2 linked regions of the Homo sapiens genome follow. The gene in region 1 interacts genetically with each later gene. Each region holds a gene or a part of one and is shown in the gene's direction. Other genes may lie near its edges. The genes, in order: UBA1 and ACACA.

Region 1 (3,812 bases):
TGGATGGGTGTTTGTTAATTAAAAAGTCCAGGCCGGAAAGAGGTGCTCTGGAAGCTGAGAGTTGTCCCTGGAGTATCCCAGGTTGCCAGGGCACTGCAGCTAAATCCTGATGGAGGAGTAGGAGCTCACCCTGGTGGGGAAGGATGGACATTCAGGCAGAGAGCAAAATCCCAAAGATCATGGCGGAGCAGGCGTCGTCTTGAGAATTGGAAGCAGGTGGGTGTGGTAGGAGTGAGCTCAGACTTTGGCTGGAGACAGAGTTTTACTCCAGTGTCTCACAGGGCATGGCAGACAGACAGCAGCGGGTGTTTGTCAAATAAATGAGTCAGCTCTTCTCCAAACTCCCTCCTCCCAGCTACCTCTTCACCTTTCCTGGTATAGTCCAGGGGTTCATTTTCGACCCCCACAGAGTCTGATACACAGTAGGTGCTATGTGTTTGTGAAAGAGGCTGACCCAGCAAAGCCTGGATGTGTTTGCCTTGAGGACTGCCTGAGTCCTCCACACCAGCCCTCCATTTTTTCCCCTTCACCCCAATGCTGGGCCTGAGCCTCCATCTCTCCACAGGTGGTGGTGCTCACCAACACCCCCCTGGAGGACCAGCTGCGAGTGGGTGAGTTCTGTCACAACCGTGGCATCAAGCTGGTGGTGGCAGACACGCGGGGCCTGTTTGGGTGAGTGGCAGCCCACCTCCCTCCCTGTCCCCTTTTCCCCCAACTCCTACCAAGCCCAGGCCAAGACTCTAGGCTCTCCCTGCCCTCATCCCTTCTCAGCTACCCAGGTTTTGGGTTCTGTGTTTTCATCTCTCCCCATGTGGCACAAGTACCATCTTACATCCCAGCAGTGATAGGCTGAGTTTGCTCAGCAAGTTTTCACTACATCTTGAGGGACCCGTGGGACCTGTATGTGCATGGGACACAGGCACCAGCCCTATTGCTTCCCTCTACAGGCAGCTCTTCTGTGACTTTGGAGAGGAAATGATCCTCACAGATTCCAATGGGGAGCAGCCACTCAGTGCTATGGTTTCTATGGTTACCAAGGTAAGGAGACCAGCCCTAGGGTTCCTGGCAGGCAGGTGGGCTGCAGTAGTCCTTCCTGTCTGCTCTTGGTACCCTGGGCCTGTTTCTGAGACTCACTCTTCCTTTAACCAGGACAACCCCGGTGTGGTTACCTGCCTGGATGAGGCCCGACACGGGTTTGAGAGCGGGGACTTTGTCTCCTTTTCAGAAGTACAGGGCATGGTTGAACTCAACGGAAATCAGCCCATGGAGATCAAAGTCCTGGGTGAGCTGCGACCATGGGGGAAGCAGAGGGGAACTAGAAGATATGTTCCTGGGTTCTGGCCGGGGAGTTGAAGGGAGAAGACATGGCCCTTGGTTCAGAGTTGGGAAGACACATCCTGGTGTTTGAGATGAACTACAGACAATCCTGTGGGGTCCAATAAGAGCTGGTGGGCATGGGGGAGAGGTACTGTGTTTGAGCTATTCCTGGGAGAATGTGTCCCTGGTATCTGAGCTGAGTGGGGAAAAAGTCTCTGGTGTTTGAACAGGGCAGATCAGCGGATCTACTTGTGTGTGAGCTGATTTGGATGGGAAGCAGAGAAGGTCTTCCCGTGTAGACTTGGAGCCAGGGACACAGGGTCTCACGGGGTCTGAGCTGAGTCTGGGGCACAGGAGAGATGGTTTCTGATGTCCAAGTGGAGCCTGGAGCTGAGGGAAGACAGCTTCTGATGTCTGAGCTGAGTCGGGGCAGGAGGTTCCTTATCTTGCAGGGGTTGTGGATTTTAGGGAGAATGGGTAGACTGACAGCTCTCTTCCTGCCCTCTGTAGGTCCTTATACCTTTAGCATCTGTGACACCTCCAACTTCTCCGACTACATCCGTGGAGGCATCGTCAGTCAGGTCAAAGTACCTAAGAAGATTAGCTTTGTGAGTGTGTCGATGGGATCAGTGGGCTGTGGGGGGTGGTTCTAGGCATTCCCTAGTTCTCCATTCCTCTCTTCTGGTTCTGATGACCTCTCCCCCCGCCACAGAAATCCTTGGTGGCCTCACTGGCAGAACCTGACTTTGTGGTGACGGACTTCGCCAAGTTTTCTCGCCCTGCCCAGCTGCACATTGGCTTCCAGGCCCTGCACCAGTTCTGTGCTCAGCATGGCCGGCCACCTCGGCCCCGCAATGAGGTGGGTGAGTGGGCGAGCCAGCCAGCGCAGACATGCCTGGCACTGCAGGCTCACCATGCCTCTCTGCGTGTCCACACTCCCTGCCCTCACTGTGGCCTGACATATCCTCTCTTGGTTCTTTCTGGCCCACCAGGAGGATGCAGCAGAACTGGTAGCCTTAGCACAGGCTGTGAATGCTCGAGCCCTGCCAGCAGTGCAGCAAAATAACCTGGACGAGGACCTCATCCGGAAGCTGGCATATGTGGCTGCTGGGGATCTGGCACCCATAAACGCCTTCATTGGGGGCCTGGCTGCCCAGGAAGTCATGAAGGTCAGCACGGGTGGGGAGAGGCAGGATTGGGGTGGGCCAGGTTCCTCCATGACTCTGTCACTTGCTCTCTGTCTGTGTCAGGCCCCTGTTAACCACTGACCACCCCCTCTCTCCCTTCCCCTCTCCAGGCCTGCTCCGGGAAGTTCATGCCCATCATGCAGTGGCTATACTTTGATGCCCTTGAGTGTCTCCCTGAGGACAAAGAGGTCCTCACAGAGGACAAGTGCCTCCAGGTATGTGGGTGGGACCTGTGGGGAGGGCATCATTGGGGACATTTCTGGGGAGGCCTCTCTAACCCTCCTCCCTTTGCATTCCTTAGCGCCAGAACCGTTATGACGGGCAAGTGGCTGTGTTTGGCTCAGACCTGCAAGAGAAGCTGGGCAAGCAGAAGTATTTCCTGGTAAGTGGTCCCCTTGGATGTCTGCTCCCCTCATCTTGGCCTCTGGCCATCACCCCTGGGGCTTCCTTCGGCATCTCAATGCAACCGGTGGCGCATTCTCTTTGCCATTCTCCTTATCTTGAAGGGAAGCCCAGTGCATCCCTCGTTTCCCCTTCTGGTGCCTCCTTCCTCACATGACTGCGTGTCATTTCTTAGAGTCCTGCAACCTGAAGATGTGGTGTTAGCCCCTCTCCCCGTCTCTCAGGGGAGTGAGGGGTGATGGGTAGCTTCACACTAACCTGCATCACCCTGACCAGCCTCTGCCTGTCTTCTTGGTTGCTTCTTAGGTGGGTGCGGGGGCCATTGGCTGTGAGCTGCTCAAGAACTTTGCCATGATTGGGCTGGGCTGCGGGGAGGGTGGAGAAATCATCGTTACAGACATGGACACCATTGAGAAGTCAAATCTGAATCGACAGTTTCTTTTCCGGCCCTGGGATGTCACGGTGAGTAGGGTAGGAGGTTGGGGCTTTGTCGTCTCACTTTCCTCCTTTTTCTTTTTTTTTTTTTTTTTGAGACGGAGTTTCGCTCTTGTTGCCCAGGCTGTAGTGCAGTGGCGTGATCTCTGGCCCACCACAACCTCTGCCTCCTGGGTTCAAGCGATTCTCCTGCCTCAGCCTCCTGAGTAGCTGGGACTACAGGCATGCGCCACCACGCCCGGCTGATTTTGCATTTTAAGTAGAGACAGGGTTTCTCCATGTTGGTCAGGCTGGTCTCGAATTCCCGACCTCAGGTGATCTGCCTGCTTCAGCCTCCCAAAGTGTTGGTATTACAGGCGTGAGCCACCACACCTCACCCCTCCTTTTTCTTGTTCCCATTCTTTCTGTCAGAGATCTTTCTGCCTCTGCCAGAAGCCCTTCTTTTTGGCCTTTCTTTCCCTCAGCTTCTGT
Region 2 (3,812 bases), on another chromosome or scaffold:
GAAATAAGAATGAAAAAGAAACATCAGTTGGCTTAATTAGAAGTGCGAACCTTAAGATTTTTAAAACACATAGGCAAATGAGGAATCTCTAGTTCTAAAAATAGATACTAGGCAATAGCACTTGTTGAATGTTAGGTGTCCTAACTGCTGGCTATCCAGAGAAAATACATGGAGGTGGGGCACAAAACAGACAAGAAATGTCATGTGATTAATTTTAAGAGAGCTAAGCATAGAGTGCAGAGGGTCACCTAACCCAAATCAAGCTAAGCTTGTATGGGAAGATATTCTGAAAGAAGAGACATTTGATCTTAGTTTTGAAAGACAGATAGTGATAGAGCAGGTGAAGAAGGGCAGGGAAGAGTGCTTAAAGTTGAAGGAATAGCATGTACAAAGACAGAAGCAAGACAGCACAGTGTATTTAGGGAACTGCAAGTATGTGTTGGTGTGGCTTGAGAATAGACTAAGGTTTAATGGGGAGGGACAAGCAAAGGTGCTAAAGAAGTAATGTGAGATCTTGAATGTGAGGTTATGAAGGATCTTATAAACCATACTAGTAAGTTTTCACTATCCTGGAGGCAGCAGGTAATCTCTGAAAGATTTAAGTGGAAAAGTAGTATGATGAGATTTGGGGTCTAGGAAGATTGCTTTTCGTGACCTTGAGGGAGGTATGTAGCAAGTAGGGAGATCTCTTAGGGGGTCTTTGAAGTACTTTGGGCCAGAAATGAAGAAGGCGTAAACCGAAGAGTTGGCAAGAGAGGAAGATTTTTGAGAAAGGTTTAGAAGATATGTCTGGCTGGGTTGGTAATTGGTAGGTAAGGGAGAAAGAGGAGTGAAGAATGATCCTTAGGTTTTGGCCTGGTTGTCTTAGATTGGATTCACTGGTATGAGGATATTAAATTGTTCCTTACTTTCTAAGTACAAAACAAATATAATCACAAATTATGCCAAAATGGTTGTAAAAGTTAGAAAGGAGAAATGTCAATAACTGTTATTAATTCCTAAAGTGAGGTACTGAGAGATTTTCTAATTGCTTGCCTTGATAGTCCCTAGGAGATGATGGTAAATTCCCATTTTTTCTTGGTCAAATTAGGTGTGGTCCAACTTAGATGCTAAGGGAAAAATTTTAGTTCTTTTAAGCACTCATCTGTGTAAAGAGAGATAAATCTGAGTCTAGTTTATTTTTCACTATAGGTAATGAAGATGGTAATGACCTTAACAGCTGTGGAGTCTGGCTGTATCCATTACGTCAAGCGACCTGGAGCAGCTCTTGACCCTGGCTGTGTACTAGCCAAAATGCAACTGGACAACCCCAGCAAGGTTCAGCAGGTGAGTAGGAAGGTGCTCCGAATATTGCTCTCTAAGAGCTAAAGAACTTGGTGGTTTGGAGAGGCAAGTGATTTCAATGCTTGGTTTGCCAGTGTTTTCTTTAGCTTTGTCCCCTATTAATCTTATGCCTTGTATTTGTGCCTGTAGTATTATGGAACTAGAGTTTGCAAGAGTTACTGTAGTACTAAGATTCTGTAATTTCCTTATGATGTTTCCTCTATTGACTTCCCTCCTGGTAGCTGGGTATGATGTCTCGATTTTGAATGATAACTCTTAAGTGCAGTGGTGTGTTTGTACCTTAGATCAAAAGTAGTAGATGACTTGATCTCTTGTTGGGGTTGACAGGCTGAACTTCACACAGGTAGTCTGCCACGGATCCAGAGCACGGCACTCAGAGGCGAGAAACTCCATCGAGTGTTCCATTATGTCCTGGATAATCTGGTCAATGTAATGAATGGATACTGCCTTCCAGATCCTTTCTTTAGCAGCAAGGTATGTATCACGTCTCCTGGGGAAGGGATGTACAAATGGGATACCTATTCTCCAAAATAGTTCCAAGTCTCATAATGATTGTTTAAGAGGGAGGAAAAGAAAGCTGTTTGGCCTAGAACTCTTTCACCTTCAGTTGTGGGACTTGAGGTCTTTAAATCCATGTTTCTTATCCTTGTCATGGACTTCACATTTAATTGTGATTACTCCTTTTTTTTTTTCCTCGAGACGGAGTCTTGCTCTGTTGCCCAGGCTGGAGTGCAATGGCACAAACTCAGCTGACTGCAACCTCCACCTCCTGGGTTCAAGTGATTCTCCTGCCTCAACCTCCTGAGTAGTGGGGATTGTAGGCACGTGCCACCAGGCGCGGCTAATTTTTTTTTTTTTTTTTTAGTAGAGGTGGGGTTTCACCACGTTGGCCAGACTGGTCTTGAACTCCTGACTTTGTGATCTGCCCGCCTCGGCCTCCCAAAGTGCTGGGATTATAGGCGTGAGCCACTGTGCCCGCCCGTGATTAGTCCTTTTTAAACTGGAGAATAGGGGCAATGTTAGATGCTTACGTTGCAATTTCAAAGTACTCTATGATAGTTGGCTCACGCCTGTAATCTCACCACTTTGGGAAGCTGAGATGGAAAGATCGCTTGAGGCCAGGAGTTTGAGACCAGCCTGATCAACATAGCAAGACCCCATATCTATTGAAAATTATATAAATTTTTATTGAAAAGAAGTAGTATATGATAGTGAATTCAGATATAGTTGACTCTTGAACAATACAGGTTTGAACTGTGTGGGTCCACTTATATGTGGATTTTTTCAGCCAAACATGGATCAAAATTACAGTATTGATGAGATATGGAACCCACAACTATTTCTATACATGGGTTCCGTAGGGCTCAAGTATGTGCAGATTTTCATATATGAGTGGTGGTTCTGGAACCAATTTCCCACGTATACAGAATGACAACTATATATCTTTTTATTTGGGGGATTGTGTTAACTTGGGTCCTATTTTACCAATGCTTTCTTTCTAGGTAAAAGACTGGGTAGAGCGATTGATGAAAACCCTCAGAGATCCCTCCCTGCCTCTCCTAGAATTGCAAGATATTATGACCAGTGTGTCTGGCCGCATTCCCCCCAATGTGGAGAAGTCTATCAAGAAGGAAATGGCTCAGTATGCTAGCAACATCACATCAGTCCTCTGTCAGTTTCCCAGCCAGCAGGTATTTATAGGATAACACTATATTTTTTTCTGGCTACCAATGCCAGAGTTTATGTTGTAGGATTCCTTCCTATTTGGATCCTCCTTACTTTTTGGATGTTGTGCTTGTATACTTTTAAGCATTGTATTCCTCACAAAACTGCCTCAGGGTACAAACCCAACAGTGAAAGTACTGTATGTGAAGGATAAGTATCTGTAGTTATGAGAAAAGCACACTTGGATCATGTATACCTTATAGCTTTGTTCCTGGGGCTATTCCCTAATTAGAGGTATTTTCATGAATTGAAAATAGAGTGATATTAGTTGATTGATTGATTCATTCATTCACTCATTGATTTAGAGATGGAGTCTAGCTCTGTCACCAGGCTGGAGTGCAGTGGCTGATCTCGGCTCACTGCAACCCCTGCCTCCCGAGTTCAAGCAATTCTCCTGCCTCAGCCTCCTGAGTAGCTGGGATTACATTCACACGCTGCCATGCCAGCTAATTTTTGCATTTTTAGTAGTCACGGGTTTCACCATGTTGGCCAGGATGGTCTCGATCTCCTGACCTCGTGATCCGCCCACCTCGGCCTCCCAAAGTGCTGGGATTACAGGCGTGAGCCACCGTGCCCAGCTGTTTATTTATTTATTTATTTATTTTTGAGACAGGGTCTTGCTCTGTCGCCAAGGCTGGAGTGCAGTGGTGCGGTCATGGCTCGCTGTAGCCTTGACCCCATAGGCCCAATGGCTCATCCCACCTCAGTCTCCCAGGTAGCTGGGACTACAGATGTGCACCACT

What was found.
Region 2: changes in UBA1 (region 1) and ACACA together harm fitness less than expected from each alone (positive genetic interaction), as found in Homo sapiens cells (one large-scale study listed by BioGRID).

Annotation. Positions count from the first base shown.
Region 1 is NC_000023.11:47,200,329-47,204,140, forward strand, and holds part of UBA1 (ubiquitin-like modifier-activating enzyme 1), read left to right. Parts: intron 1-565; coding exon 566-672; intron 673-947; coding exon 948-1,038; intron 1,039-1,149; coding exon 1,150-1,282; intron 1,283-1,827; coding exon 1,828-1,925; intron 1,926-2,029; coding exon 2,030-2,176; intron 2,177-2,309; coding exon 2,310-2,486; intron 2,487-2,614; coding exon 2,615-2,719; intron 2,720-2,805; coding exon 2,806-2,886; intron 2,887-3,212; coding exon 3,213-3,368; intron 3,369-3,812. UniProt on the Homo sapiens protein: Catalyzes the first step in ubiquitin conjugation to mark cellular proteins for degradation through the ubiquitin-proteasome system.
Region 2 is NC_000017.11:37,242,594-37,246,405, reverse strand, and holds part of ACACA (acetyl-CoA carboxylase 1), read left to right. Parts: intron 1-1,191; coding exon 1,192-1,326; intron 1,327-1,430; exon of another isoform or gene 1,431-1,605; intron 1,606-1,671; coding exon 1,672-1,818; intron 1,819-2,846; coding exon 2,847-3,035; intron 3,036-3,812. UniProt on the Homo sapiens protein: Cytosolic enzyme that catalyzes the carboxylation of acetyl-CoA to malonyl-CoA, the first and rate-limiting step of de novo fatty acid biosynthesis.